Linked DNA regions of Homo sapiens. The protein of the gene in region 6 purifies or fractionates together with the protein of the main gene of each other region. This does not show direct contact. Each region holds a gene or a part of one and is shown on either strand. Other genes may lie near its edges. The genes, in order: ASAP2, NHSL3, WASF1, DMBT1, MAGEB10, ARHGAP12 and RAPH1.

What was found.
Region 1: the proteins of ARHGAP12 (region 6) and ASAP2 purify together in Homo sapiens (affinity purification with mass spectrometry; 2 studies listed by BioGRID and IntAct, with this or other methods). This does not show direct contact.
Region 2: the proteins of ARHGAP12 (region 6) and NHSL3 purify together in Homo sapiens (affinity purification with mass spectrometry; one large-scale study listed by BioGRID and IntAct). This does not show direct contact.
Region 3: the proteins of ARHGAP12 (region 6) and WASF1 purify together in Homo sapiens (affinity purification with mass spectrometry; one large-scale study listed by BioGRID and IntAct). This does not show direct contact.
Region 4: the proteins of ARHGAP12 (region 6) and DMBT1 purify together in Homo sapiens (affinity purification with mass spectrometry; one large-scale study listed by BioGRID and IntAct). This does not show direct contact.
Region 5: the proteins of ARHGAP12 (region 6) and MAGEB10 purify together in Homo sapiens (affinity purification with mass spectrometry; one large-scale study listed by BioGRID and IntAct). This does not show direct contact.
Region 7: the proteins of ARHGAP12 (region 6) and RAPH1 purify together in Homo sapiens (affinity purification with mass spectrometry; one large-scale study listed by BioGRID and IntAct). This does not show direct contact.

The regions. Positions count from the first base shown.
Region 1 is NC_000002.12:9,398,315-9,402,698, reverse strand, and holds part of ASAP2 (arf-GAP with SH3 domain, ANK repeat and PH domain-containing protein 2), read right to left. Parts: intron 2,677-4,384; coding exon 2,627-2,676; intron 1,958-2,626; coding exon 1,869-1,957; intron 1,426-1,868; coding exon 1,303-1,425; intron 1-1,302. UniProt on the Homo sapiens protein: Activates the small GTPases ARF1, ARF5 and ARF6. Regulates the formation of post-Golgi vesicles and modulates constitutive secretion. Modulates phagocytosis mediated by Fc gamma receptor and ARF6. Modulates PXN recruitment to focal contacts and cell migration.
Region 2 is NC_000001.11:32,744,428-32,748,811, forward strand, and holds part of NHSL3 (NHS-like protein 3), read left to right. Parts: intron 1-4,384. UniProt on the Homo sapiens protein: Able to directly activate the TNF-NFkappaB signaling pathway.
Region 3 is NC_000006.12:110,169,152-110,173,535, reverse strand, and holds part of WASF1 (actin-binding protein WASF1), read left to right. Parts: intron 1-4,384.
Region 4 is NC_000010.11:122,629,852-122,634,235, reverse strand, and holds part of DMBT1 (scavenger receptor cysteine-rich domain-containing protein DMBT1 isoform e precursor), read right to left. Parts: coding exon 4,243-4,384; intron 3,949-4,242; coding exon 3,746-3,948; intron 3,276-3,745; coding exon 2,955-3,275; intron 2,382-2,954; coding exon 2,361-2,381; intron 1,376-2,360; coding exon 1,346-1,375; intron 1,046-1,345; coding exon 895-1,045; intron 1-894.
Region 5 is NC_000023.11:27,810,990-27,814,489, reverse strand, and holds part of MAGEB10 (melanoma-associated antigen B10), read right to left. Parts: intron 1-3,500.
Region 6 is NC_000010.11:31,809,933-31,814,316, forward strand, and holds part of ARHGAP12 (rho GTPase-activating protein 12), read right to left. Parts: coding exon 4,327-4,384; intron 2,892-4,326; coding exon 2,775-2,891; intron 816-2,774; coding exon 717-815; intron 1-716. UniProt on the Homo sapiens protein: GTPase activator for the Rho-type GTPases by converting them to an inactive GDP-bound state.
Region 7 is NC_000002.12:203,482,797-203,487,180, reverse strand, and holds part of RAPH1 (ras-associated and pleckstrin homology domains-containing protein 1), read left to right. Parts: intron 1-4,384. UniProt on the Homo sapiens protein: Mediator of localized membrane signals. Implicated in the regulation of lamellipodial dynamics. Negatively regulates cell adhesion.

The DNA.
Region 1 (4,384 bases), on a different chromosome or scaffold from region 6:
GTGGGCTTTTTGTGGAGTGGGTGGGGGGTGCTGTGGTTATGGGCAACTTCTGTTTTCTTCTTTATGCCTCTATTTTCCAGTTTTGGAAATGAGCAGGTATTTTCCACATGGCTAAGCCTGTGGTCAGGTTGGCGCCCCTTCCGGATGGTGGGTTGTGGGCAACTGTGGGAGCTGGCTGGTTCCCGAGTAGCTGGGATTACAGGTGCCTGCCACCACACCTAGCTAATTTTTTGTATTTTTAGTAGAGAACCATGTTGGCCAGGCTGGTCTCGAACTCCTGACCTCAAGTGTTCCGCCTGCCTCGGCCTCCCAAAGTGCTGGGATTATGGGCGTGAGCCACCGCGCCCAGGCCACAGACACTTTCAATCCATTAAGGGCAAACGAGGCCACAGGAAAGACCGGTGAACCCAGCTCTGCCAAATGAAGGCAGTGCTGCCTGGCCCTGAGAGCTCACAGCGCCTCTGGAGGCTGAAGACATGCAGTTTAAACACTAGTGGGAGTTCTGGGAGGGACAGTGACTAAAGACAGTGTCCAAACTCCTCGCACTCGACAAAGAAGTTCCCCTAAATCCTGTGAGTTCCCAGCTGAACTGTCTGCTCTGAGCTCAGTTGCGGAGCTGTGCCACTTGCGTCTACTGTGTGGTGGGCTCAGCCTGGGGCTTTCTGTCCACGCCCCATTCAAGCCGGTTCATCCACCGCCCTCACTGTCTGCAGCTGCCGCTTAGTGGGTGCTCACAAGATCACCTGCACCAGACTGTGTGTGTGTGACCTCCCTGTCACAGATGATCCCACTAATGCTTAAAGATAAAAGCAACCTGCCCCAAGCCACCAGCCCCTGAGTGGCCAAGTCTGAATTCTTAGGTGGCCGGCACTCATCTTGCTCCCACACCCTGCTGGACGCCTGGGCGGCCACAGCTTGTTTCAGGACCAGACTCAGGCCTGGGGCTCTGCGCTCTAGGTCAGCTCTCTCCAGACACCCGATTCCACTAATCCAGCAATGGGGGGTGATGACCTAGAAACTCAAGACCTCAAAATGAAGGAGTGTCATTTCAGGCCCTCATGAGTGCTGTGGAAACTGCACCCTAACAGGGGAGGAAGCCACCCTGGGGAATAATCAGGCCTGCTCAGAAGGGGGTGTCCATGGAGGAAGCAGCTCCTGAGGATGCTAAGGGGCGGAGGCACCAGGAACTACATCTGGACTGCTCAGGCTGAGAAAACCTCACCTGCAAGCCCGTCTCTCCAGCCAGGTGGGCAGGGACGTGGCTCAGCCCCCAGGAACCTCCCAGGCCCACCCTTGACTCACCCACCACTCCTGGTCCTCCTCCCCGTCCACGATGATCACATCCCCCTCGGAGAAGGTGAGCTCATCGGGGTTGTCAGCCACACAGTTATAGAGCGCTTTCACCCGCTTAGGCTTCAACTTGGTCTGGGTCAGGAGAGGGAACAACGGTTAGTGTGGCTGCAGGCCTCAGCTCTCAGGGCAGAGAGCTCAAGCACCCTGCCTTCCCCGGTCTCAGGAGTCCCGTACCTAGGCCTGAGAAGCCTGCAGATGCCAAGGTGGGGCAGGTCAGTGCAGCTCAGGAGCCAGGGAGAGAAAAGGGAAGAGCTCCCCACCAAGCAGAGAGAAGGGGCCAAGGGCTGGGAAACGAAGCGGCCGGGGCAGGGTACTCTGAGTGGGCCCATTGTGGAGCTGCGGCAGGAGGGCCAAACCCACCAGCTGCCCAGATCCAAGCAGTCAGGTACCAAGAAGAGCCCCGCCCTGCCCCAGCCAGGGGAAGAGGGGAAGACTTGCTTCCCCTGAGCCCTTGTGAAACCACCTGCACCCCCCTGGCTAGAGCAGAGAGGCAGGAAAGGGGGCTCGTCACTTACTGCCTGCGACTTCCTAGGCATGGGTGCAGGGGGCTGCAGGACCATAGCATTGGACAGAGGACCCAGAGCTTCCGTTGCAGAGAGATCCACTGTAGGGCAAAAATGAAGCAGCTTAAGACATCCCATCAATCACAGCCATGAGATGTAAACAATGTACAAGCCACAGGGTGTGTCTGAAAGCAGGTTTCCCCAGGTGTTCCGATCTGTTGAGGGGAAAGGGAACCTTCTGACTTGGATGCAGACCTTGGAGAGCTTGTGTGGCAGCGAGTGTCCCCCAGTGAGCCTGCCATGTCAGCAGGAGGGGACAGGTGAGGGGCCCCAGGACTGAGCTGCTCAGGAGCAGGGGTCTCAGAGGCCGAGGGAGGAGGGAGGATGGCAGGAGGGAGGAGGGAGGAGGAAGGCAGGGAGGAGGGTGAGAGGAGGGGAGGGGAAGGGAGGGGTGGAGGAAGGCAGGTGGCGGGGGAGGAAGGCATGAGATGGGGGAGGGAGGGGGAGAGGAGGAGAAGGGAGCAGAGGAAGGCAGGAGTGGGGGAGGAAGGAAGGAAGGAGGGAAGGAAGGAGAGGAAGAGGGCAGGAGGGGAAGGGGGCAGGAGGGGAGGGGGCAGGAGGGGAGGGGGCAGGAGGGGAGGGGGCAGGAGGGCTGTGGAATGGCAGACAGCTGGGCCCTCCCTCAGTCCTGACCACCTGGCAGGAAACATCCCCCACATTGCCCCCATGGACCAAGCAGAAACAAACTCAGTCCCAAATTAAATAATTACCAGGTCCTCTCGGTTGGCCTTTGTTGGTCAGTGGGGTGGACTTGTCAGCCCTACAAAGACAGGGAAAAAGTAGATTTACTGCTACCGGAGGGCACCTGCCCCTTTCTCATCCCCTTTTATCAGAGAACCTTCTGAGTTCAAGCTCAGAGTGTGTGAGGTGGTTTCCTCCACTGTCACTTAGCTGTCTCTTTTTTATGGGAAAAGGAAGAATGAGAGGCCCTGAGGAAAGTGCTAAATTCAACGTTTCTGATCCTAAAACCAGGGCTTTTCCAGAGCACTCTGTCCACGTGAGCCTGCCACCGATGGCCAGGGTCTGGAGTGATGCTGGGCACTGGCCACTGGCCCCGCCCCGAGTCTGCTCAGCCCCTTCCCTGCCTTGGTCCCATCACATGAAAGGGCAGGGCTGAACCTTAACCTCAGGCCCAGATGGCTTTGCCAGGACGGGTCCGAGCACTCTGGGTCAGCGCTGTCCATGCCTCTGCCGTCCCTGCTTCTGGGAACCAATGTGGCTGACCACGGGCTCAAGCCCCATCCATGAACCTCTGGGCCAGCACACCCCAAAGCCACAAGGTAGAAACACATGAGTGAGGAAGTAGTTCTCAGGGCTGGCAGAGAGGGGTCCCTCATCTCGAACCTGCCACCTGGCAGCCCTGGATAAATGGGTTCTGGAGAGTCAGCATTTTCATCTGCAAAAGGTGTGACACAAGATCCGTCAACTCCAGAGCTAAGGACCAGTGCCAGTGGCTTCAGCTCCCCGGTGGATCTCCTGGACCTAGCATAAAGCCAGGCACAGGACGGGGGCTGGAGAAGCAGAAGAGGAAGACCAGGGAGGAAGGGAAGGGGAAGGCAAGGATGGGATTCTTTCCACTGTACGCTCCCGTCTGTCGACACTCCCTTCGCTGCTCGGAATGAACCCTGTCTGGCCTCAATGCTTGCAGTCCCAGAATGAAGGGAGAGAAAACATCACATGGGTTTTGCTCATACGCTGAAGGAACTGAAAAGGAACTTTGTTTTATTCCATAAAACAAAGACCCCTCCCATTTGACCAGTCTAGCCATTTGTTTTCCATCTGTGTCTCTGGGTGTAAATGTCTCTGCAGACATCACTACACTGACCTGGCTGACCCCCTGGCCGGCAGTCATCCCTAACTACAGAACACTCGCAGGGAAGGCCTGATCCTCTGAGACAGCAGTGAGCAGACTTTTTCTTTAAAGAGGCAGATAGTAAACTTTTTAGGCTTTGTGAATTTTTTTTTTTTTTTTTTGAGATGGAGTCTTGCACTGTCACCCGGGTTAGAGTGCAGTGGCACAATCTCGGCTCACTGCAACCTCTGCCACCCGGGTTCAAGCAATTCTCCTGCCTCAGCCTCCCGAGTAGCTGGAATTACAGGTGTGCACCACCACGCACAGCAAATTTTTTGTATTTTCAGTAGAGACGGGGTTTCACCATGTGGGCCAGGCTGGTCTCAAACTCCTGACCTCAGGTGATCTGCCCACCTCGGCCTCCCAAAGTGCTAGGATTACGGGTGTGAGCCACTGTGCCTGGCCTTTGTGTTTGTTTTTTGAGTCAGGGTCCTGCCCTATTACCCAAGCTCGAGTGCAGTGCGGCAATCAGTTCACCGCAGCCTCGGAACTCCTGGGGTCAAGTGATCCTCCCGCTTCAGCCTCCTGAGTAGTTGGGACTACAGGTGCACGCCACCATGCTTGGCTAACTTTCAAAATTTTTTGTAAAGACATGGTCTCACTATGTTTTCCAGCC
Region 2 (4,384 bases), on a different chromosome or scaffold from region 6:
GAGGCTCAGGGACAGTGAGTGACTGATTTGACCAAACGGATTTAAACTCAAATCACCTGCCTCAAAAATCGGGACTGTTTTCATGACTCTCCCAAGGACATAGAGCAGCAGGTAAGGCTTGAAGATCTTCTTGTTCAACTCACTTTACAGATGGGAAATGGCCCAGAGAGAGAAGTGAGGGAACTTGATAGAGTGGGGAGAGTATCAGAATCAGGCCAATGAGAGTTTAAATCCTGGCCCAGCTACTAGCAAGCCCCATGATGTAGGATGAGCAACTTCTCAGTGGGCTCCCTGATTCCACCACTGTCTTGTGGGGAAGAAAGGGGGAATCCTCTGGCTGGACATTGCCTTGATGGGCTGTGACCTTTCTGTCTCACCAAGATTCTCACAAGAGAGCATATGAAAATTATATTAAAGGCTGGGCGTGGTGGCTCATGCCTGTAATCCTAGTATTTTGGGAGACCGAGGCGGGCAGATTGCCTGAGCTCAGGAGTTCGAGACCAGCCTGGGCAACACGGTGAAACCCCGTCTCTACTAAAATACAAAAAATTTGCCAGACAAGGTGGCGTGCACCTGTAGTCCCAGCTACCCGGAAGGCTGAGGCAAGAGAATTGCTTGAACTCGGGAGGCGGAGGTTGCAGTTAGCCAAGATTGCACCGCTGCACTCCAGCCTGGGCAACAGAGCGAGACTCAGAAAAAAAAAAAAGAAAAAAAAAAGAAAATTATATTAAAGAGAAGTAACCATAGAAATGCAAGGGGTTGCTATGCCTGTGTTTATAAGTTTAGTCACCTGAGCTCTAACGACCCAGTCTGGAAGGAATGGGCTCTGGGCCTAAGAACAACTTTGCTTGACTGGGCGTGGTGGCTCACACCTGTAATCCCAGCACTTTGGGAGTTTGAGGTGGGTGGGTCATGAGGTCGCGAGTTTAAGACCAGCCTGACCAACATGGTGAAACCCTGTCTCTACTAAAAATACAAAAATTAGCTGGGCGTGGTGGCGCGTGCCTGTAATCCCAGCTACTCAGGAGGCTGAGGCAGGAGAATCGCTTGAACCCGGGAGGTGGAGGTTGCAGTGAGGCGAGATTGCACCACTGTACTCCAGCCTGGGCGACAGAGCGAGACTAGGTCTCAAAAAAAAAAAAAAAAAAAAATGGACAACTCTGCTTCCCTGGTCTGCCCCTCTCAAGCTACAAGATGCTGGCAGGTTATTCACCCCTCCAAGCCTCAGTATCCTTATCTGTAAAATAGGGATAATAAATCCTAGCTTTATAGGGGCCTTTCCAGGATCAAATGAGCTAACAGACATGCAAGTGCGTTGTGAACTGTGGAGCATGGTGCAGCTGGCAGCAGGTTTCTGCTGTTGTTATGCTGCTGAGGACTTGAGCATTAGTTAAGTTCACCCTGATCCATGTTTGGAAAACAGCCCATGATGATGATGATTATTGAGGGGGATTCACAGAGGATAGAGTCTCACCTTTGTCCCACAGGAGGACTCAGACATAAGAAAAAGTTAAAAAAACAGGCCAGGCACGGTGGCTCACGCCTGTAATCCCAGCACTTTGGGAGGCTGAGGCGGGCGGATCACAAGGTCAGGAGATTGAGACCATCCTGGCTAACATGGTGAAACCCTGTCTCTACTAAAAAATACAAAAAATTAGCCAGGTGTGGTGTCGGGCGCCTGTAGTCCCAGCTACTTGGGAGGCTGAGGCAGGAGAATGGAGTGAACCCGGGAGGCGGAGCTTGCAATGAGCCGAGATCGCGTCACTGCACTCTAGCCTGGGCGACAGAGCGAGACTCCAGCTCAAAAAAAAAAAAAAAAACAAAAAAGAACAAGTTAAAAAAAACAAAAACAAACAGGAATCCATATCTTCCAGAAATATCACCTGGACTCTAGACAAGTGTGTGGGTAGGAAGTGTTTCTGGGACAGATGCCAGGATTGGAGCCCAGCAGATAATCAGGGGAGGCTTTCTGGAGGAGGCGAGCGCCTATGGAAGGAGGGCAGGGTCCTGGCTAATCTGAATGGGAAGAGAAGTAACAGGAAGGCTGCTATGTGCTATATATACCCTGGCCAGGCATTTTCATCAAAGTCTTCCTATGTCCTTACAGCAACCTGGGAGGTGGACAGTTACCACCATTTGTAGGTGAGAAAAAAGGGGTGAGAGTAAGTAGCCCGAGGTCACTCAGCTTCATTTATTTGAAGAGGACATATTCTTTACTCTGGAGTGTAAGGCACTGTTCAAGGTGATGTGAATGCCAGAGGACCAGACAGGCAAGGTCCCCATCTATGTGGAAGTGAGGTTCACAGCATCACAATGACGGAGCCACTCAGTCTGCCTCCAGAGGCCACACTCTACAAAGAAAATTATATGATGATGGCTGTGTTTCTGACTCTGGAGGCAGGTAACCTCTCTAGAGTTTTAGACAAAACCAGTTTTGGGGAAAGGGGTATGTAGTCCTCCTGAGGGTTTCTCTTGTGCAGTGGGCAGCGGCTGAGGGGTGGGAGTAGGCATGGCTCTGATACTGAGAATTTGAGAGCTACCCTGCCAGGCCTAGCTGACTTAGCCCCATGTTAACTCCAGTCAGTTCACTGTGGCCTCTCCAAGTTCCCTCTGGCCACTCAGGGAGGACTGTCCTTTCATGGTGTGGAGTTGTGGAGAGAACCCTGAGTTTGAGTTCTGCTCTGTTGTATGACCTTGGGTAAGTCCTGCCCCTCTTTGGACCAGACATGCCCTGTCTTGACAAAGATGGTTTTTTTTTTGTTTTGTTTTGTTTTTTGAGACAGAGTCTCACTCTGTCGCCCAGGCTGGCGTGCAGTGGCGAGATCTCAGGTCACTGCAACCTCTGCCTCCCAGGTTCAAGCGATTCTTCTGCTTCAGCCTGGGACTACAGGTGAGTGCCACCGTGCCTGGCTAATTTTTGTATTTTTAGTAGAGATGGGGTTTCACCATATTGGCCAGGCTGGTCTCGAACTCCTGACCTCATGATCCGCCCGCCTTGGCATCCCAAAGTGCTGGGATTACAGGCGTGAGCTACCGCGACTGGCCGACAAAGATGGGGTTTAATGGCCTCTGAGACTCTTGCTAGTTCTAGGATTCTGTGAGTTTGAGAATGGGCTGAGGGAGCAAGCCTGTAGGGGCTGGGGGCTAGGCATGGAGATGGGAGCTGTGTCCAGGAAAGGAGAGCTGACCTCCAGCCAGCCAGATAAGACACTGAGACCCAGTGGCCTGGATGTCATAGGAAGGGGAGTAAGGTGGCTGGGCGTGGTGGCTCACACCTGTAATCCCAGCACTTTGGGAGGCTGAGACAGGTGGATCACTTGAGGTCAGGAGTTCAAAACCAGCCTGGCCAACATGGTGAAACCCCGTCTCTACTAAAAATACAAAAATCAAAAATTATGGCCGGACACAGTGGCTCACGCCTGTAATCCCAGTGCTTTCGGGGGCCAAGGCGGGAGGGGATCACCTGAGGTCAGGAGTTTGAGACTAGCCTGGCCAACATGGCGAAACCCCATCTCTACTAAAAATGCAAAAATTAGCTGGGCATGGTGGCATGCATCTGTAATCCCAGGCTACTCGGGAGGCTGAGGCAGGAGAATAGCTTGAACCCAGGAGGCAGAGGTTGCAGTGAGCTGTGATCACGCCATTGCACTTCAGCCTGGGCAACAAGAACAAAAAGCTCCGTCTCAAAACAAAAAACAAAAATTAGCCAGGCGTAGTGGCAGGCGCCTGTAGTCCCAGGTACTTGGGAGGCTGAGGCAGGAGAATCACTTGAACCCAGGAGGCGGAGGCTGCAGTGAACTGAGACCACGCCACTGTACTCCAGCCTGGGCGACGGGAGTTCAACTGGGCAACAGTTTCATTCAAAACTCAAAAAAAAAGGAAGGTGGGTAAGGAGAGTCCATTATGAACAATGTCATTTCTCTCTGCTGAGGAAGGGGCCTAGATAGTTCCAAAGCAGTCAGAGTCAAGTCTCTGGGGTCGTGGGCGCCTTGCCCTTCTGAGGTCAGGATGGTGTCTGTTTGCCCGTCAGTCAACACTCCCATGTGTTTTCCCCTTCTGTGTCAGTTCCTGTGCTGCTTCTCCTGCCTGGAATGTGCTCCCCTTCACTTTGCTATCCAGTGAACTCCTATTCAGCCCTCAGGGCCTGGTGTCAGTGTCATCTCTGTGATACTCCCAGGGGAAATTATTGTCCCCAGACCCTAGAGCAAGGTGCTTAAGAGAGTTGGGGTTGGGCAGTATATGCTTTTCCAGCCACTTTCTTCTTGGGTAAAGGGCACCTCAGTGTCCTTACCTGGGGCCTGGACCAATGTAATAGGGGCGGAGTTCCCTCTGCTATGGGATACCTCCAATAGGGGAGTGGTTTCCCAGAGGAGTTTGGGGTTTC
Region 3 (4,384 bases), on a different chromosome or scaffold from region 6:
CAAGTAATTTGCTCAAGGTCACATGGCTAATAGAAATGGAGGTGGAATTTGAGCACAGATATGTGTGATTTCAAAGTCCCATTTTTTTCCTACTCCCTTATGCTGCAAAGGTACCATTTCTTAAACTAAAGGTCCTAAAGAAATTCTAAGTAGGTGGGTTTTGGGTGTGATGACATCTGTTGGATGATGATGACAGCAAAGTTTTTTTGTTTTTTTGTTTTTTTAATTTGGTGTGCTTGATAGTAGTTAGTCCAGCATGTAGCCATTCTTTATTCCTAACCTAGCCAGGTCTACTCCAATAAAGTTACATTGACTAACTTATTTGAAAAGAAGAAAAGCTTATGTGTCAGGGCATGGAATAACTTGTTTGATTCCTTTACCAAAAAAGTCAAGTGTGTTATGTTTTCACCTTATGCTACAAAAGTAAGTTTGTTTTCTAGTTGTTTTAATAGGGACATCTTGCTAAATTTGTTAAATTTGCTAAATTTTTATAACATGCATGTGCTACAGGTTATGCCAGAGAATTGTGAAAGGGTTAAACGAAAAGGGAGGAACAGTGAAGCATTTTATATTTTAGTCGAGGATGAAGACTAGCACTCACTTCTTAAAATTATTTTTATAGATTTAGAGGGTACACGTACAGTTTAGTTACATGGATATATTGCATAGTGGCAAAGCCTGGCTTTTTAGTATAGTGTACATTGTACCCATTAAGTAATTTCTCACCCCTCACCCACCATCTATCCTTCCACTCTTCAGAGTCTCCATTATCTATTATTCCACTCTTTATGTCCATGTATACAAATTATTTAGCTCCCACTTATAAATGAGAAAATATGGTATTTGACTTTCTGTTTCTGAGTTAGTTCACTTAGGATAATGGCCTCTGGTTCCATCCATGTTGCTGCAAAAGAGATTATTTCATTCTTTTTAATGGCTGAGTAGTATTTCATTGTTTGCATTTAAATTTTCTTTAATTATCCATTGATGGACACTTAGGTTGATTCCATATCTTTGCTATTTTGAATAGTGGCACTGATTTTTTTTTAAACCAAAATAAAAGCCCTGTGTGGTACATCATAATACACAACTACAAATTTATCAATTTTGTTATTTTCAAGGAATCTTCATTTAGTTTCATTGTTTTTTTCTCTTGATTTCCTGTTTTCAATTTCATAGATTTCTGCCTTAATTATTCCATGGTGTATATGTGCCACATTTGCTTAATCCAGTCTGTCATTGATGGACATTTGGGTTGGTTCCAAGTCTTTGCTATTGTGAATGGTGTCGCAATAAACATACGTGTGCATTTGTCTTTATAGTAGCATGATTTGTAATCCTTTGGGTATATACCCAGTAATGGGATTGCTGAGTCAAATGGTAATTCTAGTTCTAGATCCTTGAGGAATCGCCACACTGTCTTCCACAATGGTTGAACTAATTTACACTCCCACCAACAGTGTAAAAGCGTTCCTATTTCTCCACATTCTCTCCAGCATCTGTTGTTTCCTGACTTTTTAATGATTGTCATTCTAACTGGCGTGAGATGATATCTCATTGTGGTTTTGATTTGCATTTCTTTAGTGACCAGTGGTGATGAGCATTTTTTCATGTGTCTGTTGGCTGCATAGACGTCTTCTTTTGAGAAGTGTCTGTTCATATCCTTTGGCCACTTTTTGATGGAGTTGTTTGTTTTTTTCTTGTAAATTTGTTTGAGTTCTTTGTAGATTCTGAATATTAGCCCTTTGTCAGAAGGGTAGATTGCAAAAATTTTCTCCCATTCTGTAGGTTGCCTGTTCGCTCTGATGGTAGTTTCTTTTGCAGTGCAGAAGCTCTTTAGTTTAATTAGATCCCATTTGTCTTATTTTGGCTTTTGTTGCCATTGCTTTTGGTGTATTAGTCATGAAGTCCTTGCCCATGCCCGTGTCCTGAATGGTATTGCCTAGGTTTTCTTCTAGGGTTTTTATGGTTTTATAGATCCTTCTACTTTTCTAATACAGACTTCATGATATTTTCAACTTAAAATAGGTTTATTGGGATACAACCCCGTTATAAACTGCGGACCGTCTGTATATATACTTGGTGCCATAAATTTCCCTCCAAGCACTGCTTTTGATGTATCCCACACATTTTGATAAATTGAATTTTCATTTTCACTTAATACAAAGTATTAAAAAATTTCTCTTGAGACTTTGAACCATGTGTTATTTAGAAGTGTGATGTTTAATCTCCAAATGTTTTGAGATTTTCCCATCTATCTTTCTGAGATTGCTTTCTGGTTTAATTGCATTGTGGTCTGAGAGCATATACTGTATTAGTTCTGTTCTTTTAAATTTTTTCAGGTGTGTTTTATGGCCCAGAATATAGTCTGTCTCAGTGAATGACTTATGTGAGCTTGAGAATAACATGTATTCTGCTGTTGTTGGTTGAAGTACTGTATAAATATCAGTTAGATCCAGTTGATTGATGGTATTTAGTTCAACTGTATTGTTACTGATTTTTTGCCTGTCAGTTAATTACCGATAGAAGGATGTTGATATCTCTAGCTGTGATCATGAGTTCATGTTTCCCCTTGTAGTTTTATCAGTTTTTGCTTCACATTTTGATGCTCTGTTAGGTGCATATACATTAAGAATCATTAGGTCTTGGAGAATTTGCCCCTTTATCGTAATGCAATGCCTATCTTTATCCCTGTTAATTTCCCTCGCTCAGAAACCTACTTTGTCTCAAATTGATACAGCTACTTCAGATTTGTTTTGACTCGTGTTAGCATGGTATATCTTTCTCCATTTCTTTACTTTTAATCTATTTCTACATTTAAAGTGGGTTTCTTGTATACAATATATAGTTAGGTCTTTTTTTTTTAATCTACTCTGTCTCTTATCTTTTAATTGGCATATTTAGACCATTCACATTTAAAGTGATTATTGACATAATTGTATTAAAATCTACTGTATTTGCAACTTTTTTTATTCATTGCACTTGTTCTTTGTTTCATTAAAAAGAAAAAGTTGGCTGGGCTGGTGGCTCACACCTGTAATCCCAACACTTTAGGAGGCTGAGTCAGGCCAATCACTTGAGCCCAGAAGTTTGACACCAGCCTGGGCAACACAGTGAAACCTTGTCTCTACAAAAAAATACAGAAATTAGCCAGGTGTGGTCACATGCACCTGTAGTCCCAGCTACTTGGGAGGCTGAGGTAGTAGGATCACTTGAGCCTGGGAGGCGGAGTTTGCAGTGAGCCAAGATTGCACCACTATACTCCGGTCTGAGTGATGGAAGGAACCTCTGTTTCACCCCCTCCACCCCCAAAAAATGTCCTCTCTTTTTCTGCTCTGACTTTAATTGAGCACTTTGTATGGTTTCCTTTTCTCTCCTCTCTTAGCATATCAATTATACTTCTTTCTCTTTAAAATGTTTTGTAAGTGGTTGTCCTAGTTTGCCTCTCTTTTTGTATGATTACCGAGGAGAAGTCCAATCTAATTTTTATCCTTGTCCCTCTATAGGTAAAGTGGTTTCTCTCTGTCTTTCAAAATTTTTCTTTGTCTTTGGTTTTCTGCAGTTTGAACATCACATGCCTAGGTGTAGATTTTCTGGTATTTATCGTGGTTGATGATCTCTGAGCTTCATGGATTTGCTGTTTGGTTTCTTAATTTTGGAAACATTTTGAGCACCTGTATATGCTAGGCATTGTACTAAATATCTTACGTATTTGATTTAATCCTCACAACAACCCTGTGAAGAAGTATGATTCTCATTATTTGTGGTGGAAACTAAGTTTTAAGTATAGACCACTACAGAATTTTTTTACAATAGTCACTAAAATTTAACTGCCTTGGGCTTACCCCTGACTTAAGCTTCCTCTAGATGTAATGAAAAAATGGGATTATTTTGATTTACTTGTTAGGTCGCAATACTGGAGGTGAGTGTTGGGGACTGATTTCAGAGTTCAAGTCATGTGCAGTGTATCAGATTTGTGTACCATCAAAGGAGTTGAATGAAAATGGCTGTATTGTGTCCTTTTGATGAGATGCAACTGTTTTACCAGCAATTTGCATACATTTGAAAGTTGACTGAACTGGTTAATGGAGAATCCAGTACTTTGCTTTAATTTAAAGATGATCTCAAATCCTAAGTGATTTGGTGCTGTTACTAGAAATAGAGAAGCCCAAAGAATAAGTTTCCTTTTTGGGGAGAGTGGGGAATGATGGATAATGAATTTGATTTTGGATATTTTGAATTTGAGTTAGTGAGATGTCCCTGTGGAGCTGTCTGGCAGACTGATAGCACAGGAGTATATATTGTCAGGACTGTTAGGGTTGATTGTTTAAGTTTGTGTAAGTAATTTAGAATTGATGGTTAAAGATCTAGCAGTGATGGATTT
Region 4 (4,384 bases), about 91 Mb from region 6:
CCGACCCCTGGGGAACTCACATGAAGAAAGGAATGGGTGGAGAAAAAGGGTTCCACAAAACAGATACAATTGTTCTTTTTGTTTTGTTTTGTTTTCCTGAGACAGGGTCTCGTTTTGTTCCACAAGCTGGAGTGCACTGGCGCTATCATAGTTCACCACAACCTTCAACTCCCAGGGCTCTAGCGATTCTCCCACCTCAGCCTCCTTAGTAGCTGGGACTACAGGTGCAGGCCACCACACCCAGCTAATTTTTGTACTTTTTTGTAGAGATGGGGGGTCTCCCTATATTGCTCAGGCTGGTCTTGAACTCCTGCATTCAGGTGATCCTCCTGCCTCGGCCTCCCAAAGTGTTGGGATTACAACCCTGAGGCAGCATACCTGGCCAGTGTGGTTGTTAATAGGATTATTAGTGCTATTATTGCCCCTAAGTCTATCATTACTACTTAACAACCATCTTTTCCACTGGACAACATTTTGTAAATATTTTCACATCTCTCTCCCTCTCTCTCCTCTCTGTTTCTCGTGACCTTCCCAGTAAACAGTGAGGTGAGGAAAGCAGGTATTTTATTCCCCTCTTTTGACTGAGGCTCAGGAAAGTTGAGTGACTTCCTGTGGTCACACAGCAAATTGGTGAAAGACCTAGGACTTGAAACCAGAGCTTTTGTCCACTCCAAGGCTCTCGTGCCCCCTCCCCAACTCTCCACGGGATGCCTCTGGGCTAGGTCAAAAATGTCTCTCAGCAAACTTCTCTCCTGGCTTTCTAAGCACCATTTATTCCCTCTTGAAAGGTCTGTGGGGCCCCAAGGCATTCTTCTGGGCGCACACTTAAGCACCATTTATTCCCTCTTGAAAGGTCTGTGGGGCCCCAAGGCATTCTTCTGGGCGCACACTTACTGGACATCTCTGAAGATCACAGTCACACGGTAGTTGTTTTGCACCTCAATGTCCCACACACACTTGGCATTGTTTGGATAGTTCCCGGGATAGAATGGGCTGGAAAAGTCCCCTGATGGTTGGGATAGGAAGCCTCCGCAGGAATAATCTGCTGTCAGGACAAAAAGTGGGAATGTCGGTGACCCCCAGAGCACACTGCACAGTCTACCTGCGGACTACTTTAAATTTAAATTACTTTAAAATTTTATAAAATAATTCCCAAGACAGAAACCAAGTAAGAGCAAGAGGTGGCCTAGATCTGGACCGTCCACTGAGGGCTGGCAGGGCACTCTTGCAGGGAGACCACTTTGGGGGAAGCCATCTCCTCCCCAGCCCCATTGTCACTGAGGAAATGGGAAGGGGAATTTCCAGGCCACTCTGCCACAGACTTGTCAGGGAGCTCAGAACTTACTGTTTGGACGGGTGATGTTGAGAAAAGGAGCTGTTGACAAAAAGAAAAGATCAGGATCAGTTTTCTGGCATCCCTGACACAGCTGTCGACTGCTCATGAGCTGTGCAGATGCTGTGCCAAGCCTGAGTCCACAGGGAGGAGCTGGACACAGGCCTTGCCCTTGGGGAGCTCACTTGCCTTTGGGGAGGTCTGGAGGAGAGCGAATCCCAGCACACTGGGAAAAGGATGAGATTGACCAAAGCCTGGGGAAGGAGAGGAGCCTGGAAGTCTGGCCCCTGCCCCAGATGGAGTGGGGAAAAAAGGGCAGTAATTAGGGGGCAGGCAAAGAGGTAGAAACGGGGTGTCCCAGGCAGAGGAACAGCAGGTGCAACTGCACCTGGGTGGAATAGATTTGGGAACCTCCGTGTAGATGGAGCAGGCAGAGGATGGGGAGAGGGCACCAAGCATAGGGAGCAGATCATGGGGAGCCCTGGCAGTCATGCTGTGCTGAGGAGCGGGGTCATCACCAGAAGACCCTGAGGAATCTCTTGAAGGGGCTGCACAGTGGAGAATGGATGGGAGGGCACAGGCCTGAAGCTGCTGCTATGGGAGGCCAGGAGGGGATGACAAAGCAAGCAGGGGGCGGGGCAGTGGGGGGTGTTGGAGAGGTGCCAGGGCCATGCTGGGAACACTCAGAGCAGCTCAGGGGCAGGCAGGGAGGAGCTCTGCGATGCAGTGGGCCCCATTTGGCCAACACTGGTCAGGGTCTGGTGTCTGTGAGGACAGTCAAATCTGACAGGTGGCGGGCCTCACCTCGGGACTGACTGGAGATCCTAATCTTAGGTGGGTCAGGCCACTGAAGCACAGAGAGGGGCACACTATCCTGGTGGCCGGCAGGGGAGGGGACAGGGGCTGTAGAGGATGGTACCACAGATGAACTCCTTGGAGAGTGAGCAACATGCCCTGCACAGTCTAGGCAGCAGTAATGGAGAGACCTGGAGACCAGGGAAGTGGAATGGAAATCGGAGGGACTTACCAGGTGTCGATAGATGGTTTCCTGAAAAAGGAATAGAAAAAAAGCATAGGTCACAGACATGTGGCTTGGAGGAGGGGCCGGAATGAGACAGAGATACACTTACATGGCCCATAACCTGACCCCCCTCGGCGAGGGTCCCCAGGTCCACCCAGCAATTGCTATTGAGAAGCCTTCCCAGCTTCCCCAGATGCTCCCTAAGTCCCGTCATACTTGTGGTCATCAGGATTACAGCTGAGGTCATAACACCCATCACTCTCTCCTTGACCATGATTGTTCTAAAACCATCCCAATTGTCACCAGTAGCAAGTACTATCATAGCCACCCCGACTCAACAGTCAAGGAAACTGAAGCATAAAGAAGTAAAATCATTGCTGGAGGTCCTTTAGTCAGATGAGTGTTCAGCATAATGGCCCTGGGTCCAGAAACTGGCCAAAGATAAAGCAGCCCCCTGCATGCTCTTCTGGAGTGCGCAGGCCACGAGGACACAATGACCAGCTCCTGCCTGGGCCACAGACACCATCAGCCACTGGCCTTAAGCTCTTGCTTTATAGCAAGTTACAGGTGAAATGGGCCTTCCATGGCATTGGGCCATACCTGAGCAGATGACACCAGCATCTTCACGATGATTACAGTTGTGGGAGAACCAGCCTCGGTTCCGGCACTGCCAGAGAGTGGATTCCGTCCCTGAGCACTCTACATCGTCCAGGGTGATGGGGCCAGAGCCAGAGCCAAAATATGCATTTCCAAGGGCTGAAACTGCACGTCCACACCCTAGCTGTCTGCAGACCACCTCAGCTTCCTGAATGGTCCAGGAGTCATCACAAACTGTCCCCCAGGTGCCACCATGGTAAATTTCTACACGCCCGGCACATAGACCATAGGATGAATTTAAATTGACCAACCTCAAGGTGGCATCTGAAAGACACATTAACTGAGAGATCATGGCCATGTCCCACAACAAATGTCCCACAACAAACCTCAAAGGCCAAGCATCCCACAGGCCTTTTCCCACCTCTAAAGTCGCCAAATAGAAATGTGGAAAAGCTGGGGTGGAGGTACTGGACCGCTCCATGCAGAGCTGAAAGGGGCTCTAGACATCGCCAAGCTCAGATCCCCTCACCTCCAGACGGAGAGGGGTGGCTCTGAAGGAGAGTCACCAGGTCCCCTGGAGAGTTGGTGGCAGACCCAAGGCCAGGTGGAACCCCCAGTCTGCACCCTTTGCTGCCTTCCCAAGGGCCTGCCCACACAGTCAGTGCCAAGAGAAAGAGAATGGGCCGTGCATCGCTGAGGCCCTTCTTTGATTTCCTTGGGGAACCATGGTGCCCCCAAAGAGGCAGCTGGGTAAATCCACCAAGCCTCATAGGCATGGTCTAGTGTGCACTTACCGCTTGGGAAGGAGTTATACCAAGCCAAAAAGCCAGTGTTTTGGAAACTGATGTCACTTCGAAAGTGAATGGTCATTCGGTTGTAAGAAGATGTAAATATTTGCCTGGTATCATTACAGATTTTCCCCAGCAGGAGACTGCTATTCAATGATCCATCAAAGATTTCAACATAATCAAAACTGCAGTTATGGTGTGCCTCCAATCTGTATGGAGAAAATGTATTCAAGTCAACATTGAAATTCCTATTGCCCCTCCATTTTATAAATAGTTTGCACTTTACGAGGGATGCCATTGAATACAGGTTTTTCTTCTAGCTCTTCCTCAATTAAGTCAAAGGACATCAGTGTTCCCTGATGCTTTATGGTAGGAATCAAAGCCACCAAAAGCTTGTCCATGGCACATGAGAGTGAAAAGCATCCCAGCCCAGGACACAGTCTAAACCAGTGGGTGTGCTGCAGAGGAACTCACCCCTCACCAGATGACCAGGCATTACTTACTTCAGATTACTGAAGCCCAGGTTTATGCGATAACCAGAATTCACTTCTATTTCCCAAACACACTTAGCATTGTTGGGGTAGTATGCAGGGTAGGATGGGCTGGAGAATGTCCCACTGGCATAGAATAAGAAGCCACCACAAT
Region 5 (3,500 bases), on a different chromosome or scaffold from region 6:
CAAGTAAAACTCAGTTATTTACTTTGCAAATTTGAGGATTTCTTATTTATTGCGGGTGTGGGGTAGTCTTCCCCAGTTGGATTCAAGACTCCTATAATTTATGTCAAAGACTAATTCCTTCCATCCCTTCAACTATCCTTCCATCCAAACCACCCCTATTTTCATTTCTTTCACTCGCATCAAAAATCTAGCCCTCACTTGAGTTTGCCAAATGATACTAAAGACAACCTAATAAAAATGCCCTTTTAGGAACAACACACACCGGGTCCTGTTGGGGTGTGAGGGGCAGGGGGAGGGAGCCTAGATGATGGGTCAATAGGTGCAGCAAACCACCATGGCCCATGCATACCTATATAACAAACCTGCACATTCTGCACATGTATCCAGGAACTTAAAGTACAAGTTTTTTTAAAAGCCCTTTTAATTAAGTGGGTTTAGTGGGCTCTTGTTTCTCCCAGGCCAGAGCAAATAATGCCAGCACAATGGCTTTTGAGCACATTCATGTCAGGTCACCCTTGATTCTCAGAAGGTCCCTGGAGCTGATGTGCATAAAACATAGTTTGTGGACTGTGCCCAACTGCACTGGAAAAATGACACTGGAAAAGGATGCAAGACACCTTCCATTCCCATCTTACAATTATTTCTGGTTTATCTATTACCTCAAAATAACTGCTAAAAGCACTTCTTCATTCTAGGCATTAGTCTTTTTGAGGATCTGGCCCCTGCTCTGTACTCCCACAGCCTCAACCAACCCACTATCCAGACTAACAAAATTGACTGACACTGAAGGGTTTGCAGTTTCCTAAGGCCCCAAACCCACTTGCCTCAGGACATTTTCACTTGACTGCTCTGATCTGGATCTTCCCACCTTCTCTTACTCATCCTTTACTTCTTAGGGTATATCTCACCATCTTCCTTACATGACAGCTGCTCTTAGACTCTACAATTCAGTGCGTGCCCTTGGGTCTTGTTTATCCTGACATTCCCAGTACCAGCATGGCGCCTTCCCTCCAAAGAACAGATGCCCAAGTAATGTTTGAGAAATAAGTGAGCCAGTGTGCAAGAAGTCAGTTTTATTATGATGTTCCTTCTCCTACATTGTTGAATAAACTAATCATATCTAAGTATCTATCTCTTAATTTTACAGAACAGACTAAACATAACGGAATGAAAGCATTTATCATCTTTTACATTTTACCTCTATTTCTTCATCCCAACTATTTTACTGCTTTTTTAAAAAAATATTTCCAAGGAAATGGCTAATCCACTACTATGTTATCTCATTGGAGATCACTAAATAAGATGGAAATTTTCCCATTTTTTTCTATAAAATAGTAAAACTCTACTCTAAAACCTCACAAACATCAATAAATGTATGACTTACTATCACTTATAATCTTGGATTCTTAAGCTACTTTAACCTTCTATTAAAAGGAACAACGTTTAAATATCCAAGTTACCCAGAACATGTTATGTACTATGTTATAACGAGACACAGCCAACCCTCCACTAGTGAAACACTGACTGTCCTCTTCAAAAACACAGTAAAGCATTTTCCTCAGCCTTCACTTGGAGCAGGCAAGGCTGCTGGACGTGGCCTTGGAACGTGCACTGGCCATGGTGGCAGTACGGGCCCTGGCTGCAATTCTGGCTTGGGATCTCTCTTCCACATCTTTCAAAGCCTCTTCATAATGGGATGGGAAGGCACTGGGGACTGTACCATGGATCTTGGCCAAAAACTCTAGGACTTTCATCTTGCTGGTTTCAGCATAGGCTCGTGGACGCCACAGGAATTCATAGCTTGGAGGACTGCTGTTGGGCACTTCCCAATACTCCAGGTACTGCTCTTGCACTAAATCTTTGGTGAGGAGGTTCCTGGGCTCTCCATAGATGACGTGCTCCTGTCCCTCGTATACCCCCATCATATTTAGCACCTTCCAGACTTCCTCCTCAGGGGCACAATTCCCCTGGCTGAAGATCGCACTCAGGATGGTCATCAGCAGGCCATTCTTGGGCAAACTTCTGTTAGGATTCACTCTTGTGTCATGGCCTAATTCTAGTTTGTTGACAAGGACATAGATGCTCTTGTTGGGATCCACTTCTCTCACGTCAAGGCCAAAGACCAACTCCAGGTGATCAGAAGCTCTCCTCAGGATCTCAGGGAAGAGGCTCTTTTACGTCTGGATTACATTTTTCAGCATATCTGCCTTTGTAATGGGCTCTTGCATTTGACATTTGTACAGCAGGTAATGCACCAACATAGCAATCTTCTTATCTATAGGGCCTCTGGGCCACTGCCCAGTGGTAGCCTGGGCCTGTGAGGCATTTGACCTTTCCTCAACTTGGCTGTCGATGCCTTCATTAGATGCTGTGCATGAAACAGCTGCAGCAGTGGTGATGGCTAGAGCTATCCCAGGCTCTTGCTCATTGCTGGGTGTTTCGACAGCAGATGACCTCTCAGGACTATCTTTGAAATGAGGAGATGAAGTGAGGGACTCTCCTTCCTCTGCTACAGTGACTTGAGCACCTTCCACGTCCTTGGGCTCTTCTCGAGCCTGGCGGCGTTTCTCACGGGCACGGGGCTTACTTTTCTGACCCCGAGGCATTATGACTCTGCTCAGAGGTAAGTAGTAGTGTGAGACAGATGGCAGGTGATGAAGTGACCTCAAGGAAAGAAGGTGTGATCCTCCAGCAGGAAGATATCACCTTGACTTTATGGAAGTTGCTTCTGTAGGTTTCTTTGAGAACACTGTTCAAGGATCCTATGAGGCTACTCTTCTCTGAAGGGCCTTTCCCCTGAGGAATCAGTGGAAGTAACTAGACTGTACCTTTGCTGAAGCCTGCCAGTATTACCTGCATCTTACTGGGACTGATACAGTGACTGGCAGGTCCAGACTCTATGGAGCTTCCTTTTTTTCTGGGGTAGACGATGTTTCTTTCAATTCACATTCAGGGCCATCACCTTGACTTCTGGCAGGACCTGTTATCTCACTGCTGAACTGTTTTGATGCTGACTCCCTCATTCCAAAGCGCTCATATCCTTGACTCCCCAGACAAGAAATTGAGGGGGAATCTCATGTGACCACATTTGCAGGGGGACATTGTGGAATGGCAGCAATGCAGAGATCGGTGAGACCCTCTTTATCTTGAGGTAATTAGTTTTCAGTCCTCAGTCTTTACTTTTGCTTCTTGGAGGGTCTGATTGCCCTCCTTTTGCTTACCTGAAACCTATCCCCTCCAAGCAAGGCCTTCACATCCCTGACATTCCTGATAAAGATATTAGGGAGGCCTCAGATGTATCTTCCCCAGGGACCCCTATCAGGAAAGACAGCACTCTTAGGGCTCTATGAATCCTCTTTTACTTCTGGAAATTCAGGTTCCTCCTAATGACTCCTCACCTTGACAGCCTCATACCTTCCCCTCTGAGGACTTGAGGCCTATACCAATCAGAGAAAGGCCCTCTTCCACTTGATATCCCAGAGTATGCAGTTGGAGGGAGG
Region 6 (4,384 bases):
TACTATTCATTTAGCTTCAAATTAAGACAATAGTGTAGTATCCCTATTGCCATGTTGACAAGAAGAGTCAGTGGGACAAGAGATCTGTAACTGGCAGAAATTACAAATTGAATTATGTGTTTTAATTGTACAAAATCTCTTTCATGATATACAGAGATAAGTTAATGTGATTACAATATACTAATGTATATAAAACTAGTATAAATATTATAGCTATGTTTAAATTAATCACAATAGAAATTAGTTTGTCCTATTTTACAGAAAATGACATAAAAATTTTTATCTCGTGAGACATTTGTGGTTGACTTAACCATTTAAAATGTCATCTGATTTTTAGGACAGAAGAAACTTAGTAAGTAAACACAATCTCCTCGGATCTTATACATTGTCAAATTATTTCTTAAAAACAAGCTCAATTTCACAATCACTACCTTCTTCATTTTAAGCAAATGCTTAAATGAAATGGCATCAAAGAATAGCATATACTTAATTAACTGTGAGTACCAAACATTCAGCAGATGCCTGGAGAGATCTTAATTTGAAACAGGTGTAAACATGTAAGTATTTGTAAACAAAATTATTTTCTTAACATCTTAGGACTATAAGGAACTTCTGTTTGCATCACTCAAAATCATAAAAATTCTAGGAATTTTGATGGCAAAACAAGAAGCTGGTTTGCTTAATGTTAAAAAAAAAAATCAAAATCCTTCTCTTACCATGTTCTTCAACATGTTCAATACATAACTTCACAAACTTTGGTACTGTGCCATTCTCTCTCTGACACAGATTAGCGAGATTGGATCCAAATACCTGATCTGAAAAAGATTTATTTTTAAAAAGTCAATCACCTTGCTGAAATTCAGTTCATGAAATGGCTAACCATTCAGAGTGCAACAGAAACATCCAGCGTAACCAAATATTGTTTAACATGGCCCTATGCCTTATGCAATATGCATCTTGCCTACTTCTTTTCACTTCAAACAATTCGTTTCCAAACTCATACAAACCCTTACTCACTCTTGCCTGAAAATTCTTTGTACTTTCTACTGCTTTTGCAGAAAGCAATTTTCTACCCAATTTGGCTCCTTCTTATCACTCCTGGTCTCAGCTAAAATGTCACCTACTTTAATAACCCCTCTGACCATCCTTACCTAAGAGAACCCAGTTCTAGACACATTCTATTTTATTACTGTGTTAGATTCACAGCATTTGTTACTATTTCACATTATCTTGTCTACTTCCTACTTGAGTATAAGTTTCATGAGGGAGAGGACCAAGGACCATGTAGTTCCTGAACACCAACAGGTATTCATAGCACCTAGGCTTGTGCCTGGCACTTAGTAAATACTTGATTATTTTAAAAACTATTAAAATAAGCATATGTCCGTCCATCACGTACCAACATTTGATTTCACAAAATACATTTCAAATACTCTTCTATTGATCTTTCAACCCAACAGTTTTGAAATTCCATATTAGTGGTAAATGTTCAGGAAAACAAACAATTTGAAGTGATGAATAAGGACATAAAGTGACAACAGTTTATATTTCTCAGGGAAAAGGCCTGGTGAACAAATTAGCAACAGTTTCTATTCACTTATTTGCCAGGCTTTTTTTTTTTTTTTTTAAGTTTTTAAAGACTCTGAACTCATCATACAAATTCAAATGCTTTATTGGAGAGTACCTAATTTGAATTAATCAGCTAGTCTCTTCCTAGAAGTCTTAAATACCTTTTTTATTTTATTTTATTTTTTTTAAGACAGTCTTTCTCTGTCACCCAGGCTGGAGGACAGTGGTGCAATCATAGCTGCACTGCAGCCTCTAATTCCTGTGTTCAATCGATCCTCCCACTCAGCCTCCTAAGTAGCTAGGACTACAGGTGTGTGCCACCACACCCAACTAATTCTTTGTAGAGAGAGGGTCTCTCTATGTTACCCAATCTGGTCTTGAGTTTCTGGACTCAAGCAATCCTCCTGCCTCCCAAAGTGGGGGGTTTACAGATGTGAGCCACTGCACCTGGCCTTAAATACCTTCTTAATAAAACTGGCTTGCGTGTTTTAATGCAGATGCTTCACAAATAGATGGTCTTTGTTAGAAATTTCATAATAATCAGAGACAGAGATATACATTATAGACTATATTATCTTTACTTTTATTTTTATTTACAAATAAATGCCATTGTTTTAAGTCAGGTATTAGAAAATTTTACCTTTGGAATTAAACACGCTCGTAAGAACTACATACACAAGTAATGTGATTTTTTTAAAGAATATTTTCCTATAAAAAAAAGATTGTTAGTCCATTATAGTGCTTATAAATGAAATAACAGGCAAATAAATTAGTTAGAAAAAAACACCTTATGCTAATTTTTCAGTTACCTTAAATGACAGCCAAGGGTAAAAATTATTTGTTCATTTTTCTTTCTATTGTTAGTGATATTCAAAATTTCTTATTTATTGTGATCTTTGCATCTCAAAACTAAACTTTTCATTGTCACAATTTCTAAAAGTCTGCCACCCATCACATCCATGTAGTTCCTCTGAAACAGGCTTTCTAAAAGTTTAGTGTGTTATTTATGTCTGTCCACTACTTTAGTTAAAATAAACTTTCAAAAAAACTATTTTAATTACTTAATGTCTTTTAATCACTGTACTTGAATACATGAATAAAGAATAATATTCTTACTGTTTGAAAATGTTTGTTTTTAATTTGAAACATTTTATTTATGACGTAGGCCAACATTCATTATTATCAACAATACTTCTCCTACCAACCTTTAATATAACCTTTTTCACGAACAGCTTGCAAAGTGGGGCGTCGTGTAAGAAACTTCTTTAAGTTTTTCTTGGTTTTTTTCTGTTCTGAAGAATCTATGCTAGATACTTTAAAGGCTTAAGACAAAAAGACAGGTAATGAGCATTTGTAAAAATAAAGTTTTTTTGATACAAGTTTTTCCAGCTAGCATGCAAAACACATTAACCTCATATGTCAAGATCATAGTACAATTCAGTTATTTTAACTTTAATGTGGTTTAAGGACAAGATGTGAAGAATTACATTAACACAGACCCCATTTCAAAGTTATAAACCAAACAAAACATTTCATTTTTATCACTAAAAACAGATGACAACTGTACCTTCTATGGTATATCTGCCAAGACATCCCTAATTTACTCTAACATATTCTTTATTTCATAAATGATTAACTACTTATCTTTATTGATTCTCCATCAGTTTTAGAAGGTAAAATGACCACCAAAAAGTAAAAATACATAAAATACACAACAAAACAATCCCTATCTTCATTGAATAAGAAAACTGGATATACACACAAATATATAGAGATATAAATATAGACATATAACCATCATAACTATTATACTTGTATTTTAAGCTAACTTTCATCATAATTATTTGTACTCTAAGCTACAAATGGGACTACATGGAAAATGTCCTCCATTGCCTTTAGTCTTGATTTTTCTGTTATAGTAACAAAAATTCAAAAGGTATATTTCTTGAAAATAATTCTATTTGGGGGAAGTTGAGAGCATGAAGAATCTATAATATAGAATAAAAAATAATCACTTTTTATGTTAAATTGCTACCTGTTGACAATGTCAGTAATAGGCCTAAAGTTCATTAGAAATACAGAAAAGTAGTACTGATTTTCTAATCATTCAGTTAATATGAAGGCCAAAAAGTTCTCAGTTAAACGTGGATTTGTTAAAATAGACTGAACAAAGTACCAAGTCACAAAGCTAACGGCCTATTTAAGCAATGTAATTCATAAGGGGCCAACATTAGAAAATGCTTTTCTTAAAGCTGCTGGCTTTTGCTATGCTCCTTTCTGTAGTAAGATCTGGAGATAGAAACGCTTGCATCTGTTTACATGCACAGACACATCCTAGTCCAGAGATGGATGCCTGGTGTCCAGTAGGAAATTATGGTACATATTCCATGACTTTTGACTTCTTAAAAAGTATAAGATTCTATGTAGAATCTTAAACAGTAAGTATATATTTTTAAATCAATGAAGTTCAGCTTCCTAGAGGCCTCAACAGAAATGCACTATACTTCTTCTCTGAAAGTAGCACAATACCTTAAAATTAATGTGATGCCACAGGATGCATACTATGAGGCTGAAAAACGACAATAATGAGTTAACAAGAAGAAAGAGCGCTGACACACTGAGACTGCACTTGGTTAACTGCACAGCCCTTTTGTAACATTGGACATTCCATTCAGCTTTTATATATGTATTTAAAACCTTCAAAAAGCTAAGAGAACAAGCACAAATCCTTAGCAAAATAGGGAAAGGACAACTTACAACGAAGCTTTTTGGGATCCTTTTGTTCCTTTTCTTTATCATGCTTTTCTATTCCTGG
Region 7 (4,384 bases), on a different chromosome or scaffold from region 6:
TGAGGGACAAGTTATAAACTAATCATTAAGGATCTTCTAATACCGTATGCATGTCTTTCTGTCTGTAAAATGTGCTCATTATAAAAGTTCATACAGTATAGGGGCAAATTGAAGTAAAACGTGAAAAGTTCCTCTCTCCCAGCAAGCGCACTTCAAATGGTATCTAGTGGTATCCATGGGTATCACTGTGAATACTGCAAAGATACCAGTGCTCAATGGTATAATGTTTAATATAAGAGTTTAATGTAAGGTTTGGTGAGTAAACCAGGACTATAGCAGGGAAAGGAGTTAAAAAGCCTTATCTAGCTAGCCTGTTCTTTTGCCTCACCTAGGAGTATAGAAAGGTGGTTTAACAAACCCGGAACTTGCTTCCATTTGCTTTTTTCCTAGGTCTAGTCTGTTCTGATTCAAATAAAGTAAACTGAGGCAAGCTTAATATATCCTGAACTCATGTATCAAATTGTCTTTAAGTGCAAATACAGTTTTAAAAATATTTTAGTTTTTCATGCATGGCGTTAAATAGTTCTATGAGATATGTTACGGAAAACTATCCTCTACTCACATACACATCATATTCTGCTTCCAGAGGTAAGCAATTTTTGCTCATTTAGCTGATTCTTAGGGACTTTACCTCTTTATCATTAAGTCTACATACACATTGCCATTTCTTGATTTTCTTTTTAGTGGTATGTATTACCTATTGACTTCTCACTCTACTCCAGAAGATGGAGGGTATAGCTGTCTATATACAGCTTCTTCTCACTTCTCCCTTCCTGTTTTTCCATTCTCCAAATATATTTTGATTGAGCTCATATTCAGTGTTTATATTAAAATGACTATATACTTGAAATTTACTGCTAACCTCCATATACTCTTGTGACTACATCCCCTTTCTGGAATATCATTTTACTTTTACTGGAATGAATATATGTTTAAAAATATTTAATTTTCTATATGGTGATCACTGTTTCAACTTCAGACTTTCTCCCAGTTGATTAAATCTCTCTGGTTCAAGCCAAATTAGCGTTCCATTAATTGCATCTTCTTAAAATTCTATTTATTTCTTTTCTTTCTTTTTTTTTTTTTTGTAGTCTTCAGGATTATCCTTAGGTTTTTTTTCCTAGGCTGGTGAGCTTCTCTGGAGAAGATTCTTCCAGTCTTCTATGCTGGCTGCCAGTGTTTTAGTAGCCCATTTGGGAAAGAAGGGTTGGAACATGAGGATGGTCCCCATTGTTCCAGTCTATGAACTTTCATCAAATCCTTCTAGGTCAGGGTTTCTCAGCTATCAGCACTATTGACATTTGGGCTAGATAGTTTTGTGAGTGGCTGTCCCATGCACTGTAGGATGTTTAGCAGCATCCCTGGCCTGTACACACTAGATGTCAGTAGTACACATTTACCTTCTTCAGTTGTGACAACTAAAAACGTCCGTAGACATTGTTACATGTTGCTTGTAGGACAAAATCCACCCCCAATTGAGAATCACCACTGCTCTAGGTAGAGAGGGTTAACAGTAGGCCTGAGTCCTTTTCTTCGTGGAAAATGACCTTGGGTTTTCCTTCTCCTGGCATTCTTTTCCTGGACACATACTGGATTAAGAATTAAATATAGAATATCTCCAGGTAATATTGTTTATTGTGAAACTGACCCCTGTTGGTGAGTGTATATGGACCAGGAAGACTGTCCATGAATGAATAAATTAGCCTATGAAAAGACATAGACCTTGACTTCGTGGTGTGCAGTGTAACTCTTTTTTTTTTTTTTTTTTTTGAGACAGAGTCTCACTCTGTTGTCCAGGCTGTAATGCAGTGGCGCAATCTCAGCTCACTGCAACCTCCGCCTCCCAGGTTCACATGGTTCTCATGCCTCAGCCTCCCGAGTAGCAGGGATTACAAGCACATGCCACCACGCCTGGCTAATTTTTGTATTTCTTTTTTTTAGTGGAGACAGGGTTTCGCCATGTTGGCCAGGCTGGTCTCGAACTCCTGACCTCAAGTGATCCACCTGCCTCGGCCTCCCAAAGTGCTGGGATTACACTGTGGGAGCCACTGCACCTGGCCAGCAGTGTAACTCTTATAAATGAGCATGAACGTGTTCTTTAAGGGGCCCTGGAACTTAACCTCATTGGCTGTTAAAAGGTACTGCTGGTTCCCATGGAGCATGAAGTTTCCCTAAGCCAGGGTGTTTTCTGCACTTACCATGTGGTCTCTTTCCCTTACAATGAGCTATTTATGGGCCCAAAAAGGGCCTGTGGTGAGCTGTATGGACTCCCTCAGAAGATGGCATGTCTCTTTTTATTTATTCAGAACTGAGTGAATCTGGCTTCAAGCTATGGTCTGTTGGGTCTTGTCAGCGAATGTTAATCTGTACCTGAGACCACTGCTGGTGGGTGAGTGAGTAAAAGAGGGAATCTGAGAATTAGCTGCTTTCTTAAATGTGTTTTCAACCATTCTTCCTGCTTTTAGTCGCACCATCACCTGTCTACTCTTGCTTCTGAGGACTTCTGAGGTTACACGATATAAATTGAGTGCTCCTCTGCTTTTCTCCAGTGCTGGCCCAGCATTCAGCTTCTCTTGGATTTGCTAAATTGGTTACCACTCAGCCATATGCTTTTTTTCCACATCTTCCCACCCCCATTTTAATCCCTGTAAAACAATGCTTCACAACTTGGGCTACTTTGTCCTGCTGGGTATATGCAACATTTTTGGTTGTCCATCAAGGGCGTGTGCTACTACTGGCATCTAGTGGGTAGAGGCCAGAGGTGCTGCTAAACATCCTACAGTGCACAGGACAGCCCACATGAAGGATAATTATCTGGCCCAAAATAGAGCCAAGGTTGAGAAACCACATTTTAAATCGTGTGGCACCTGTTAGTCACGATCAGCAAGGTGGCAGTTATAGTACGTTGTATGAAGTCCTTCTGTTGAAAGTTTCTAATAAAGATCAAGAAAGTACCAGCATCAAATCTTCTTAGATTTAAGGAAATATAGGTATCTTTGGCCAGTCCCTCTCTCCTGAACTCCAGGTGCATATATTCCATCTCTAATCAATATCTCTATTTGGATGTCTAATTGTGTATTATATTTCTCCAGAGAGATAGAACCAATAGGATATGAGTGGGGATTTATTATGGAAATTAGCCCACACCATTATGAAGGCTGAGAAGTCATGTGACAGGCTGTCTGCAAGCTGGAGACCCTAGGATGGTGGTAGTGTGACTTAGTCCAAGTCAAAAAGCCTCGGAACCAGGAAAGCCCATGGTATAATTATCAGTCCTAGGCTGAAGGCCTGGGTACCCAAGGGAGGCTGCTGGTATAAGGCCTGCAGTACAAAGACTGGAGAGCCTGGAGTTCTGATATCCAAGAGTAGGAGCAGAGTGTCCCACCTCTAGGAAGGATAGGGAGGAAATCACCTTTTCTCTGCCTTTTTTGTTCTATCTGGGGCCCTCAGTCAATTGGATAGTGCCTACCCACAATGAGGATGGATCTTCCCCACTCAGTCCTGGTTCACACACCATCTCCTCTGGAAACACTCTCACAGACATACCCAGATGCTTTACCAGTTCTCTAGGTATTCCTTAATCCAATGAAGTTGATACCTAAAATTAACCATCATAAATAGATTGCTCAAATTTAACTGGTCTAAACCTAAAGTCCTGCTCTTTCTCTTCAAACTTATTTCTCCCACTGTCTTCTCTATCTCAAATAATGGATATTCCATCCGTCTAGTTCATCAAGCAAACTCCTTGGAGTCTTTATCTACTTATTTTCTTTCTACCTCCCTTTCAATCCAGCAGCAAATTCTGTTGGCCTTATCTTCAGAATATGTCTAGAATGTGATCACTTCTCACCGCCTTCACTGCCACCAAGCCAATATCATCTTGATTTAGATTTTTGAATAGGCTTCCTTCTGGTCTTTCTGCATTCACCTTTCTCCCTTAACAGTCTATCATCCACACTGCAGCCAGAGTGATCCTTTTGAAAGATAAGTCAGATCATCTCTTTTCAAACCTAAAGGCTTTGCATCTCATGGTATAGCCCAAACCCCTATAATGCCTATAAAGCCTTGCCTGATCTGCTTTCCCATTACCACCTATTTTTCTTCCTTCTGTCCCTTACCCCACTAGCCATACTGTCCCATACTTGTTCTCAGCCAGTAGCCAGAGCCTGCCTCTTAGCCTTTGCACTTATTCAACCCTGCCCAGACGCCTTTCCCCAGTCTTCTGTGTAACATTCTCCTAGCTACCTTCTGGAATTTGCTCAAATGTCACTTTCTTATTGAGGCGTTCTTTGATTATGCTATTTAAAAATGGAGCTCCCCTTACTCTGCCATATTATTACCTTTTTTTTGTTTTGTTTTGTTTTGTTTTGTTTTTTTTGAGACA